3 separate regions of the Homo sapiens genome follow, and all the other regions are linked to region 3. The links come from fine-mapping of genetic effects on gene expression. A gene starts in region 3. Each other region holds a variant in brackets. All regions are shown on one strand. Distances are between the middles of the regions. Region 1 holds the start of LOC105375303 (a long non-coding RNA gene). Region 2 holds the start of LOC105375123 (a long non-coding RNA gene). Region 3 holds the start of PSMG3-AS1 (PSMG3 antisense RNA 1).

Region 1 (4,047 bases), 48 kb after region 3:
CGAAAGTGCTGGGATTACAGGCATGAGCCACCATGCCTGGTGCCTTTCCCTTTTTTTAAGTAAGGAAATATATTTTTTTCTGAATTATTTTCTCTCATGCGAGTATATTGATCCAGAAAGAAAACTTGCATTGTATATATTTTAAAATGAGAAATCTAAAAAAAAGAGAAGTATCCAAAGTCTCTGGAATTTGAAACACTTTGCATAACGTATTAAAGCCTGTATAAGAGACAGCCAACTATGGCCTGTGGACCAAATCCAGCCTGCTGCCTGCTTTCTGTGTCCTGTGAGCTAGGAATTGTGTTTATAATTTTAAATGCTTTGTTTTTAAAGACTTTTATGATACATGAAAATTAACATGAATATTTAGTGTTCATAAATAAAGTTTATTGGAACACAACCAAAAAAAAAAAAAAAACCCAAAACACCCCAGTTCAGAACTCCTTGGGGAGATGGATTTGAGGGTCTCCTCCCATCTCCCTGCTTGGCTCCCAGCGATCCTGAAACTCTTTCTCTGCTGCAAACCCTGCTGCCTCCGCGCATTGGACTGTGACTGCATAACAGGCACTCGAACCTGTGGGCCCACATGCAGCTCTTCCCTCCTGAGTGTGACCTCGGGTGAGCCCTGCGTCCTTGAGGAGCCTCTGTTTCCTCATCTGTGAACTGGGGTCACACCTCCTGCCCTGCAGAGTTGCTGTGACAGTGATGACGTGTGGAGCACCAGCATGGTCTGCCAGCGTGTGGGGCCAGGACAGAACACTTCCCCATTGCTGCTCCCTTGGTGTTTGGGTTCCTGGTCCAGGGCACCTTCCTCCTCCCCCAGCCTGGACCAAGCCCACTCCTGTGTGTGCTTTCAAGTGGACAGGAGGCCCAGGGCAGGGAGGGCAGCCCACGCTTACTTTAAGAATTTCTGACCTCCAGAGACAAGGATGCCAGGACCTCCACTGGGGGCCACCATGGCAAACTTTCCCGCTTTCAGGACACCCCACATGGCCCCCGGGATCTGGCTTTGGGAAGGAAGATGGTGCCTGGATTGCGAAGGCCTTTCAATCTCATGCCCTGCGTCATGGGGTAAATTGTGTCTCCCTCAAATTCATACGCCAAAGTTCTCACCCCCAGGACCTCAGAATATGGCTGTATTTGGAGACAGAATCTTTTTATTTTTATTTTTATTTTTATTTTATTTTATTTTATTTTTTGGAGACAGGGTCTCACCCTGTCACCCAGGCTGGAGTGCAATGGCCCTATCAGGACTCACTGTAGCCTCCACCTCCTGGGCTCAAGCAATGCTCCTGCCTCAGCCTCCTAAGTAGCTGGGACCACAGGCATGCACCACCATGCCTGGCTAATTTTTAAAAATTCTTTTGTAGAGATGGGGTCTTACTATGTTGCCCAGGCTGGTTTTGAACTCCTGCCCTCAAGCAATCCTCCTGCCTCAGTCTCCCAAAGTGCTGGGATTACAGGCACGAGCCACGGTGTCTGGCCAGAGACACGGTCTTTAAAGAGATAATGGAGGGAAAATGAGGTCACTAGGGTGGGCTCTGATCCAATCTGACTGGAGTCCTTCTAAGAAGAGGAGATTAGGACACAGATGCTCACGGAAGGACAATCAC[G/C]TGAGGACATGGGGAGAAGATGCTGTCTGGAAGCTGAGGAGGAGGCCTCAGGGGATCCAGCCCCACCCACACCTTGATGTTGGACTTCCAGCCTCCAGGATCGTGGGAAATAAACGTCTGTTGTTTCAGCCACCTGGTCTGTGAGAGTTTGTTATGGCGGCCCAAGCAAACTGACCCACCGAGGAATTTCGCTTTTGATCTTATGGGTGGTGGGGTCAGTGGGGGCTTTGAAGCCTTGGTCCCACACAGGGCTGGGGGCTCCTCGGCTGCAGGGTGGAGGGGGCACTCCACGGGGAGAGGCACAGGCTGGGAGACCAGTGTGTAGGAGTGTGTCTGTGTAGGGGTGTGTGTTTGTATGTAGGGATGTGTGTATGTAGGGGTGTGTGTGTGCGCCTGTGTAGATGTGTGTGTGTAGGGGTGTGTGTGTCTGTGTAGGTGTGTATGTAGGTGTGTGTGTATGTAGGGGTGTGTATGTAGGGTGTGTGTGTGTGCCTGTGTAGATGTATGTGTGTGTAGGGGTGTGTGTGTGTGTGTCTGTGTAGGTGTATATAGGTGTGTGTGTGTATGTAGGGGTGTGTGTGCCTCTGCAGGTGTGTGTGTGCCTGTGTGTGTGTGTATGTAGGGGGTATGTGTGTAGGGGTGTGTGTGTATGTAGGGGGTGTGTGTATGTAGGGGTGTGTGTAGGGGTGTGTGTATGTAGGGGTGTATGTGTGTAGGTGTGTGCGTGTAGGGGTGTGTGTACATGTAGGTGTGCATAGGTGTGCGTAGGTGTGTGTAGGTGTGTGTAGGGGTATGTGTGTGTAGGGTTGTGTATGTAGGGGGTGTAGGTGTGAGTGTATGTAGGGGGTGTGTGTTATGAGGGGTGTGTGTGTGTAGGTGTGTGTGTAGGTGTGTGGAGGGGTGTGTGTAGGTGTGTAGGGTGTGTGTACATGTAGGTGTGCATAGGTGTGCGTAGGTGTGTGTAGGTGTATGTGTGTATGTGTGTATAGGGTTGTGTGTGTATGTAGGGGGTGTAGGTGTGTGTGTATGTAGGGGTGTGTGTTATGTAGGGGTGTGTGTAGGTGTGTGTATAGGGGTGTGTGTAGGTGTGTGTATGTGGGGGGGTGTGTTATGTAGTGTGTGTAGGTGTGTGTAGGGGTGTGTGTAGGTGTATGTGTGTGTATGTGTGTGTGTAGGTGTGTGTGTATGTAGGGGTGTGTGTAGGGGTGTGTAGGGGTGTGTAGGGGTGTGTGTAGCTGTATGTGTGTGTAGGGGTGTGTGTAGGTGTGTGTGTATGTAGGGGTGTGTGTTATGTAGGGGTGTGTGGCGGTGTGTGTATAGGGGTGTGTAGGTGTGTGTAGGGGTGTGTGTAGGTGTGTGTAGGTGTGTGTGTATAGGGGTGTGTAGGTGTGTGTAGGGGTTGTGTGTAGGTGTATGTGTGTCGGGGTGTGTGTAGGTGTGTGTAGGTGTGTGTGTGTAGGGTGTATGTACATGTAGGTGTGTGTGTGAGTGTGGGTGGCGCGAGGGTTCTCCAGCCCCAAGTGCGTTGGTAAGAACGCGAGGAGGGGAGAAGGACAGCTGGAACCGTCTGAGCGGCGGGGGAGCCGGTGTGTGAAGCCGGCACCACGTTAGCGGAACCGAGTTATTGAAGGGCCCCACCTGGGTGGAGCCGTGAGTGTGAGCAGCTTCCGCTTCCCCCGGAAGCTGGCGTCGTGCAGGAACCCTCACCCGCCCGAGCGGGGCCCTGGGCCTCCGGGTCACTCTCTGTGGCGGGGTCTGGCTGCGCGTCAGACGGCCTCCTCCAATGCCCGCAGTTGCTGTCGCCCCCAGGCCTGGACCGGGGAGTGAGGGGTGGGCCTGACCGGCCCCTGAGCTCCCGTCAGCCCCCCACGCGAGCCCGTCCTGTGCTGGGGGCAGGGAGATGGGCCGGTGGGAGAGGAGACCGCATCCAGCCCTCCCTGGCCACCTGCAGGGTCCCCACCGTGGCGGCTGCTTTACTGCTAACTCCTCCCGGGGACCCCAAGTCCCCATCGCTCTCGGGGGTCCCCCTCATCCGAACCGCCTCGGAGGAGGGCCGCATCTCACGCGGAGCACCCCTCCACGCCTGTGACCCTGGACTTGCTCTCCCGCCCCCGCCCGGGCCTCAGGGCTCAGGAGGCCGTGATGAAGCCAGCAGGTGAACTGCACCCTGGAGCCTCCGACGGGGCGGCCACGGGCAGCGAAGAACCCGGAAAAACAGGTTCGAGGCAGACACAAGATCCAGGCCCCGGCAGGCTCCGTGTCTGCCGAAGGCTTCCTGGGTCATAGGCGACACCTTCCCGCCGTGCCCTCTTGTGGGAAAGGGGTGAGGGAGCCCTCTGGGGCTCCTTTTATTTATTTTTAATTTTTTAATTTTTTAATTTTTTGAAGTGGAGTTTTGCTCCTGTTGCCCAGGCTGGAGTGCGGTGGCGCAACG
Region 2 (4,047 bases), 22 kb after region 3:
TCCACCAACACACCCAGCTAATTTTTGTATTTTTAGTAGAGGCGGGGTTTCACCATGTTGGCCAGGCTGGTCTTGAACTCCTGACCTCAGGCAGGTGATCCCCCCCGCCTTGGCCTCCCAAAGTGCTGGGATTATAGGCGTGAGCCACTGTGCCCAGCCTTCATTCCTTTTGAAGGCTGAGTAATGCTCCACTGTGTGGAAGGACCACGTTTTGTGTATCCATTCATCGGTCCACGACACTTGGGCTGCTTTCCCCTTTTGGCTGTTGGGGACGGTGCTGCTGTGAACGCGGGTGAACAAATGACTCAGTCCCCACATGCTCTTGATGGAGCCCGGAGCCCACAGATTCAACGGGAGGGGGAACAGCTTCCTCTCAATGGGAGGGGGGCAAAGAATTTGCAGTCTTTTTTCTGTTCATTTGTTTGTTTGTAGACAGGGTCTTGCTCTGTCACCCAGGCTGGAGTGCAGTGGCACCATCAAAGCTCACTGCAGTCTCAACCATCTGGGCTTAAGCGATCCTCCCACTTCAGCCTCCAGAGTAGTTGGGACTACAGGTGCATGCCACCAAGCCTGGCTAATTTTAATGTTTTTGTAGCAAAGGGATCTGGAGATGCTGCCTAGGCTGATCTCAAACTCCTGGACTCAAGGGATTTTCCCACCCCGGCCTCTCAAAGTTGTTGGGATTACAGGTGTGAGTCACCTTTAATTCCCTGCACCGTGCTAGACAGAGATTGCTGAAGACTGTGTTCCCGGGGCCACATAGCAAATCTGCCAAATGGCAGAGGAAAGGGGAGATAGGGGCCCGGGGTCTGGAGAAATGAGGCTGGGTCTGGGGAAGACAGGTCAGAGGCAGCGTGGCTGGGAGATGCAGCTGGGAGAAGTGGAAGGAGAGGGTGGGCGTGGAGGCTTCCGGAGAGGGGTGGGCATGTATCATCCCTCAGGAGTGGAGAGACTTGGGTTGGGTTCAGAGAAAACCAGGCTGGGGAGAACTTGAGAGCCCAGGCGTGAAGGCTGATGTGTGTCTGGGCTTCACCGCCCTGAGCTGTGTGGTCAGGAGCCATCACTGAAACTCTCAAACATCCTCTTTTATAAGATGGGAATAATAATAGGACCCCTTCAAAGGGCGTCGAGGGAATTCAGAGGGAAAGTCTGTGCATACCTCTGACCTGGCTGTGATATTCATTTTAGGAGTCAACTTGACTGGGGTAAGTGGCGCCTAGAGAGCTGGTAAAAAACATCACTTCTGGGCGTGTCTGTGAGGCTGTAATGGCCAGCCGGGTGGGTCCAAGCTCTCTTCAGCAGTCCCCGGGGCTGGCAGCTAGCAGGTCTTGTGGTCTCTGAGGCCTTGGGGGGCACCTCCCGTTGTTTGCCCCCACCTACATCTGCTCAGAACACGCTTCCCACCTCCACCGCCCCTTCTCCCTGCAGGACCACCTGCCTCTTCCTGCCTCCCCGCCCAGCCTGCCTTTTCCTTGCACGACAGCCAAAATCCCATTCCCCCAAGTTTCCAGAAGGGATCAGCACTTGAATCAGCAGACCAAGTAGACAAGTCCACCCTCCCCAATGTGGGCAGGTGTCACCCAAACCACTGAGGCCTCCCCCGGGACAAAGGCAGGGGAGGGAATTCTCTCTCTTCCTGTGCTGGGACATCCATCTCCTCCTGACTTTGGACATCGAGCTCCTGTTCTCAGGCCTTCAAACTTGGACTGAATTGCTCCACTGGCTTCCCTGGGCCTCCAGCTTGCAGA[C/T]AGCAGATGGTGGGGCTTCTCAGCCTCTGTGATTCTGTGAGCCGATTCCCATGTAGATCTCTCTCTGTCTCTCTCTCTCTCTCTCTCTGTCTGTCTCTGTCTCTGTGTCTCTGTACACACATGCACACACAGACACACACATATATCCTTTGGTTCTGTGTCTCTGGAGAACCCTGGCTAATCTATGTGCACTTCCCAGCCACCCAGCCTGAGCCAGAGCTGTCTGGGAGGCTGCAGCCTCCCTCGCCGGGAGCCCACATCAGTCAGACGGCTGTGGGTTGGCGGGTGGTGGGGAGTTCCCCTCCCCGCAGCATCCAGCTGGTGGTCCGAGGCGCCGCGGCCCCTCACAGGGCTCTGCCTGCGGGAGGCTGGACTGGTTTCCTTCTTGGGCATCTCAGGATCTCAGCAGAAACTGGGGACTTCCTGAGGTCATGCTTCCGAAGGTGGGACGTCCTCACTGCATGCCACCGGCCGACAGGAAGCATGGCTGGCCCAGCCCTCCGGGGATGGAAATCCACTCTACTCATGACTGGGCAGGAAAAATGGGGCGCGAAGGATGGGAAGAGCCGTGGCGGCCCACCCAGAGACCGGCCAGCTGGCGTCTAGCTACAAGAGGCCATGCAACAGTGGGAGTGGGTGGTGGGGCCGGGCGGGCAGGAGCAGCCCACTCTGCGGGGGTGTGGGGACAGACACGCACTCTATGGAAGTACCTCGGTGGCACCAGGAGTCACTGGGGGCACCCAGCAGGTGCATGCTTAATGCATGATGGGTGAGACGTAAACAGCCAGCCAGGCGGGTCCAAGCTCTCTTCAGTGGTCCCCAGGGCTGGCAGCTGGCAGTGCAGGAAATGGGGTCCCCGAGGCCTTGGGGGGCACCTCCCGTTGTTCGCCCCCACCCACATCCGCTCAGGACACGCTTCCCACCTCCACCGCCCCCTTTCCCTGCAGGGACACCTGCCTCTTCCTGCCTCCCCGCCCAGCCTGCCTTTTTCTTGCACGTCAGCCAAAATCCGATTCCCCCAAGACTCTGCCTCATCAAAGATCCTCTTTCTCATCACCATAATTTTCCATTTGTAGGTTAAGCTGCACCTGGGGTTCTCAGAAATCTGCTAACTCTCTTCCAACTCCCTGAACTCCTCAAACGCCTCGTCCTCCCCTGCTTCTGTTGTTCAGAGGACAGGACGTAGCAGGTGGGGGCGTGGAGAGGGGGCGGCTGGGGAGTGCCTTGTCCGGGAACATCTTCGGAGACCATGTATGGGTAGGGGGGAGCCAGGCTCCTCCATCGAGTCCATAGAACTGTTTACCTGGAAACAGCAAGACCGAGGCAGCTGTGCTCTCACCTTTTTGTCCGTCCTTTCCAGGGGTCTGGAATCTGAGGCTCAGAGCCCTTTCCCAGGAAGAAGAGGGCAACCAGCCCCTTTCAGCATGTCCCGTGCTCCGTGCACCTCTGTGACACCTGGTTACTGTACTCTGAAGCTTCGCACACCCCCGCAGTCTCCATCGTAACCCCAGAAAACCAAGGCTCAGAAGGCGACGGGCCCCAGGGCACCCGGACGGTGACGACGGTGGCTGTGAGATGACAATCTGGGTCTCTGGGATTTCAATTAGGTTTGGAGGATAAAAGGTGTGAATAGGAAGCTATCACACAAGCTAGAACATGCCCGGTCCCAGATCAGGCTGTATTCCTGTGATTTGGTGTGGGTACAGAGGAGAGACTCTCCCTGGGGGTCCAAGTGGACAGTAGCATTGGGGAGGGCATCCCTGGCAGGGGGCATGGCATGGGACAAAGGCTGGGGGGAGGGAGGCTTGGGGCAGATTGAGTGCAGGATGCCTGTGTGTGACCAGGCCGGGCGGCCCCCAGGCCTCGGGGCAGCCAGACCCACCTTGCCTCAGGGCGGTGCTCACAGAGGCTGGGCAGGGAGTTAGCAGGACGCCTGCAGGACCTCCTTGTGAGCCCCCTGCTGGCCAAGGGGAAGGAAGGAGGCCTCTGAACATGGGGAGAGAAGCCAGAGCCCAGCCCTGGCACCTTGGGCCCTTGGGAAGCTGCTATCCAGGCAGGGTGGACTGGAGCCCCCGCAGGAGACCCCCAAGCCCAGAAGCACCTCTGCTGATAGTGCCCCAGGTTCTCTGCCTTTCCGAGATGGTCCCAAGGTCACCACCCCAGAGGGACACAGCCCCAGGCCAAGGGCGCTAGTCTGCCCTCCTTCCTCCCTCCTTCCCTGCTTCCTGCCCCTTTTCTTCCCCCTTCTTCCCCCCTTTTTTCTCCCTCCTCCTTCTTCTTTCCCTCCTCCCTCCATCCC
Region 3 (4,047 bases):
GCTGGACAAAGCATCCACTGAGGGCAAGCAGGGCGCCTTGAGACCCACAAATGCCCGGAAAATGCTATCGCTGTAGGGGTATTTGTCCGCCAGATGCCCCATGTCCTTACTGACAAATCACAGCCACTGGAGAGGTTTATGCTCCTCCCTGGGGGTCCCTTCCTGACCACTTTATTATTATTATTATTATTATTATTATTAAAGACAGAGTCTTGCTCTCTCACCCAGGCTGGAGCGCAGTGGCACAATCATGGCTCACTGCAGCCTCAACCTCCAGGGCTCAAGCCATCCTCCCACCTCAGCCTCCCAAGTAGCTGGGAGCACAGGCACACACCACTAGGCCCAGCTAATTTTTTGTTTCCTTTTCTTTTCCTTTTTTTTTTAAGACCAAGTCTCTATCTGTTACCCAGGCTGGAGTGCTGTGGCACGATCTTAGCTCACTGCAACCTCCGCCTCTCGGGTTCAAGCGATTCTTCTGCCTCAGCCTCCTGAGTAGCTGAGATTACAGGCATGTGCCACCACACCCAGCTAATTTTTATATTTTTCGTAGAAATGGGGTTTCCCCATGTTGGCCAGGCTGGTCTGGAACTTCTGACCTTAAGTGATCTGCCCGCCTCAGCCTCCCAAAGTGCTGGGATTACAGGTGTGAGCCACTGCACCCAGCCTCTCTCTATATATATATTTTGTGTAGGCACTTGTTTTTTTGTAGTGACTTGTGTGTGTGTTGTTGTGTTGCCCAGGCTGGTTTCAAACTCCTGGCCTCAAGCGATCTGCCCGCCTAGGCCTCTGAAAGTGCTAGGGTTACAGGCGTGAGCCACAGTTCCCGGCCAATCCACTTTACCTCATCCTGCCCCAGAAGGACTTTTGTGGTGAGCACAGGCTTGCTGACGTCACTGGCCACGCTGCTGGGCTCCAGGGAGACCAGGGTGCCCATCTTCCCAAACTGGGTCACCACCACCAGGATGTGACTGCTGAAGGCCGTACACACCACCTGGGTGGGGACCCCGCACACCACCTCCGTCTTCTGCTTCGATATCACCAACGGCGTGTCTTCCATGGCGGGGCTCTGCAGTGGCAGCTTTAATTTAGGTTAAAAAGAAAGGGGAAAAAAAGGAGTCAATCAAACAGTACAGCCTTGGGGCTCCCAAAAAAGTAGCACGGGGCATTGAAACGGAAACGCAAGGAGGCCCATTCAAAAGAAGGGGCCAGGCGCGGTGGCTCATGCCTGTCATCCCGGCACTTTGGGAGGCCGAGACAGGACGATCGTTGAGGCCAGGAATTCGAGACCAGCCTGGCCAACATAGCGAGACCCCCATCTCTACCAAAAAAAAAAAAAAAAAAAACCAGCAGGGCGCGCCTGTGGTCCCAGTTACTCAGGAGGCTGAGGCGGGAAGATCGCTTCAGCCCGGGAGGTCGAGGCTGCGGTGAGCCGTGATCACACCATTGCATTACAACCCGGGCGGTAGAGCGAGACCCTGTCCGTAAAAAAATAAAACAGAAGCAGGAGCGGGGCCGCCCATAGAGACCGCGCCTGGGGCTTTCTGGGTTAGGGGATCGACTTGCACGTTCACACTGCCAGGCCGGGCAGTGGCTTCCCGCCCCTCGGCCTCGCCGCCGCCCCGGCCCTGCAGCCGCGGCCCGGGACCCCCACGACACGCGGTGCCGAGGCCGGCCGGGCTACTGGGGACGCAGCCGCCCGGGGAAGCCCGCGGGTACCCGCGCTCACCAAGCCGGCGCCGCGCCCGGAAGTGGCTCTGCGTGCGCCACGCGGGCCCGCCCCGTCCGCGGGTTCCGTCCACCTTCCGGAAGTCAGGGCCGCGGCGCTTCTGGTCCCGGAGACTTGGGGCTCCCGGGCTTCTGAGCGGCTCGGGTTCCGCGCTGCCGGCAGGGCTTGGGGGCGCCTTAGAGCCGAACCCCGTTTTTTCAGGAAAGGGCGCTGCGACCACCCCCGTCCCGGGCCTCAGCCCCTCTGCTGCAGACCCTCGGGATCGTCGCTGGTAGGAGCTCTGTCCCCCGTGTCTGTGTCCAGGACCCCCGAAGCGCCGCGCCTAGGAACCCCCTAGCGCTGGGAGCCCGGCCCTGCTCGACCACGGGCTTTGGGCTGGAGGCGTCATCGTCGCCACAGCGAACGCTTATTTGGCACCGAGTGTCCGCCAGGCATCGCTCTAAGCGCTTTATACCCATAACTCACTTCATCTCAGCCACCCGGTTCCGTAGAAGCGTTTCATCCGCGTTTTACAGACGTGTGCAGGTGCAGAGAGCTCGGCCAGGCTCAGGCGGCGGGCGGGCTGGGGTGGGCTCCGACCGTCCCTCGGGCGCTCCGTGACACGAAGCCCCGGCCAAGGCCAAGAAGGGGGCCAGCCCCACCCTGAAGCGGGATGAGTTCTGGTTCCTCCCAGGGACCCCCTCACTCCCTACTGCTCACTCTCAGTTTCTCCAAGCTGGAAGGTTTTTTGTTTTGTTTTGTTTGAGACGGAGTCTTGCTGTGTCACCCAGGCTGGAGTGCAGTGGCGCGATCTCGGCTCACTGCAGCCTCCGCCTCCCTGGTTCAAGCAATTCTCCTGCCTCAGCCTCCTGTGTAGCTGGGATTACAGGCGTGCGCCACCAGGCCCGGCTAACTTTTTAAATTTTTAGTAGAGATGGGGTTTCACCATGTCGGTCAGGCTGGTCTTGAACTCCTGACCTCAGGTGATCTGCCTTCCTCGGCCTCCCAAAGTGCTGGGATTACAGGCGTGAGCCACCGCGCCCCGCTGCTGGAAGTTTTATTGGTAGGGTCGGACATCTTGGTAGCAGAGGCTGAAAGTGATTGGAGCCTCCAGAGCCTTCCTCGGGGTGGGGCGTTTAACATCCCTTCAGAACCCCACCCTCGGAGGCCTTACTGTCGTTTCCTGACAACCATGTCAAGGCCGTATTTTCTGTCTATATTACCAGAAAGGGGTCCCGATCCAGACCCCAAGAGAGAATTGAGGGCGAGTCCACAAAGTGAAAGCAAGTTTATTAGAAAAGTAAAGGAATTGAGGCAGGAAAACAGGGTCTGGAGGCAGGGAACACTTCAGCTATGACAGGAAATACCCTCTCCATAGGGTGTACACTGAGTAAATGATTTTGTAACTTTATTTCATCCTCTTTATTTACATAGGGCGTACACCAAGTAACCAGTAGAAACCCCTAGAGGGTATTTAAACCTCACAAGTTCTGTAATGGGGCCCTGAGCCTCTATGCTTTGGCCGCCCCCACACCATGGAATGTACTTTCATTTTCAAAAAATTTCTGCTTTTGTTGCTTCATTCTTTTTTTGCTTTGTGCATTTTTTTTTTTTTGAGACAGAGTCTCTGTTGTCCATGCTGGAGTGCAGTGGCGTGATCCTCACTGCAACCTCTGCCTCCCGGGTTCAAGCAATTCTCCTGCCTCAGCCTCCTGAGTAGCTGAGATTACAGACGTGCGTCACCATGCCCGGCTAACTTTTGTGTTTTTAGTAGAGACGAGGTTTCGCCATGTTGGCCAGGCTGGTCTTGAACTCCTGACCTCAGGTGATCTGCCCGCCTCGGCCTCCCAAAGTGCTGGGATTATAGGTGTGAGCCACCGCGCCCGGTGGCTTTGTGCATTTTGTCCAATTCTTTGTTCAAGATGCCAAGAACCTGGACACCCTCCACCAGTAACAGAATAAAGAATGGCTACTCCATAGGCAGAGCAGCATGGGCTGCTGGTTGCCCATTTTTGTGGTTATTTCTTGATGATATGCTAAACAAGGGGTGGATTATTCGTGCCTTACCTTTTTAAACCCTTTAGGGTAACGTCCTGGCATTGCTATGGCATTTGTAAACTTACGGCGCTGGTGGGAGTGTAGCAGCTGGGACGACCAGAGGTCACACTCATCGCCATGTTGGTTTGGTGGGTTTTGGTCAGCTTCTTTACTGCAAACTGTTTTATCAGTAAGGTCTTTATGACCTGTAGCTTGTGCCGACCTCTTATCTCATCCTGTGACATAGAATGCCTTAACTGTCTGGGAATGCAGCCCAGCAGATCTCAGCCTCATTTTACCCAGCC

What was found. PIP is the estimated chance that this variant, and not a neighbour inherited with it, causes the effect.
Region 1: its variant is the best candidate, but not a certain one, in a credible set for the expression of PSMG3-AS1 in stomach (GTEx, PIP 0.59).
Region 2: its variant is the best candidate, but not a certain one, in a credible set for the expression of PSMG3-AS1 in aorta (GTEx, PIP 0.83).

Annotation. Positions count from the first base shown.
Region 1 is chr7:1,616,294-1,620,340 of GRCh38, forward strand. LOC105375303 (a long non-coding RNA gene) reads left to right here and starts at 3,302. Exons shown (of 2, transcript NR_165252.1): 1 at 3,302-3,831. It also overlaps the pseudogene TFAMP1. The variant G/C (reference allele first, on the strand shown) is at 1,614.
Region 2 is chr7:1,589,995-1,594,041 of GRCh38, forward strand. It overlaps LOC105375123 (a long non-coding RNA gene), which reads left to right and starts at 2,445. Exons shown (of 8, transcript XR_001745048.2): 1 at 2,445-2,937; 2 at 3,109-3,318. RefSeq lists an enhancer at 3,746-3,795. The variant C/T (reference allele first, on the strand shown) is at 1,749.
Region 3 is chr7:1,568,283-1,572,329 of GRCh38, forward strand. It overlaps PSMG3-AS1 (PSMG3 antisense RNA 1), which reads left to right and starts at 1,791. Exons shown (of 5, transcript NR_027329.1): 1 at 1,791-1,997. It overlaps PSMG3 (proteasome assembly chaperone 3), which reads right to left and starts at 1,750. Exons shown (of 2, transcript NM_032302.4): 1 at 842-1,750. The coding sequence starts at 1,057. RefSeq lists silencers at 1,422-1,851, 2,292-2,371 and enhancers at 1,480-2,048, 2,672-2,741, 2,752-2,801.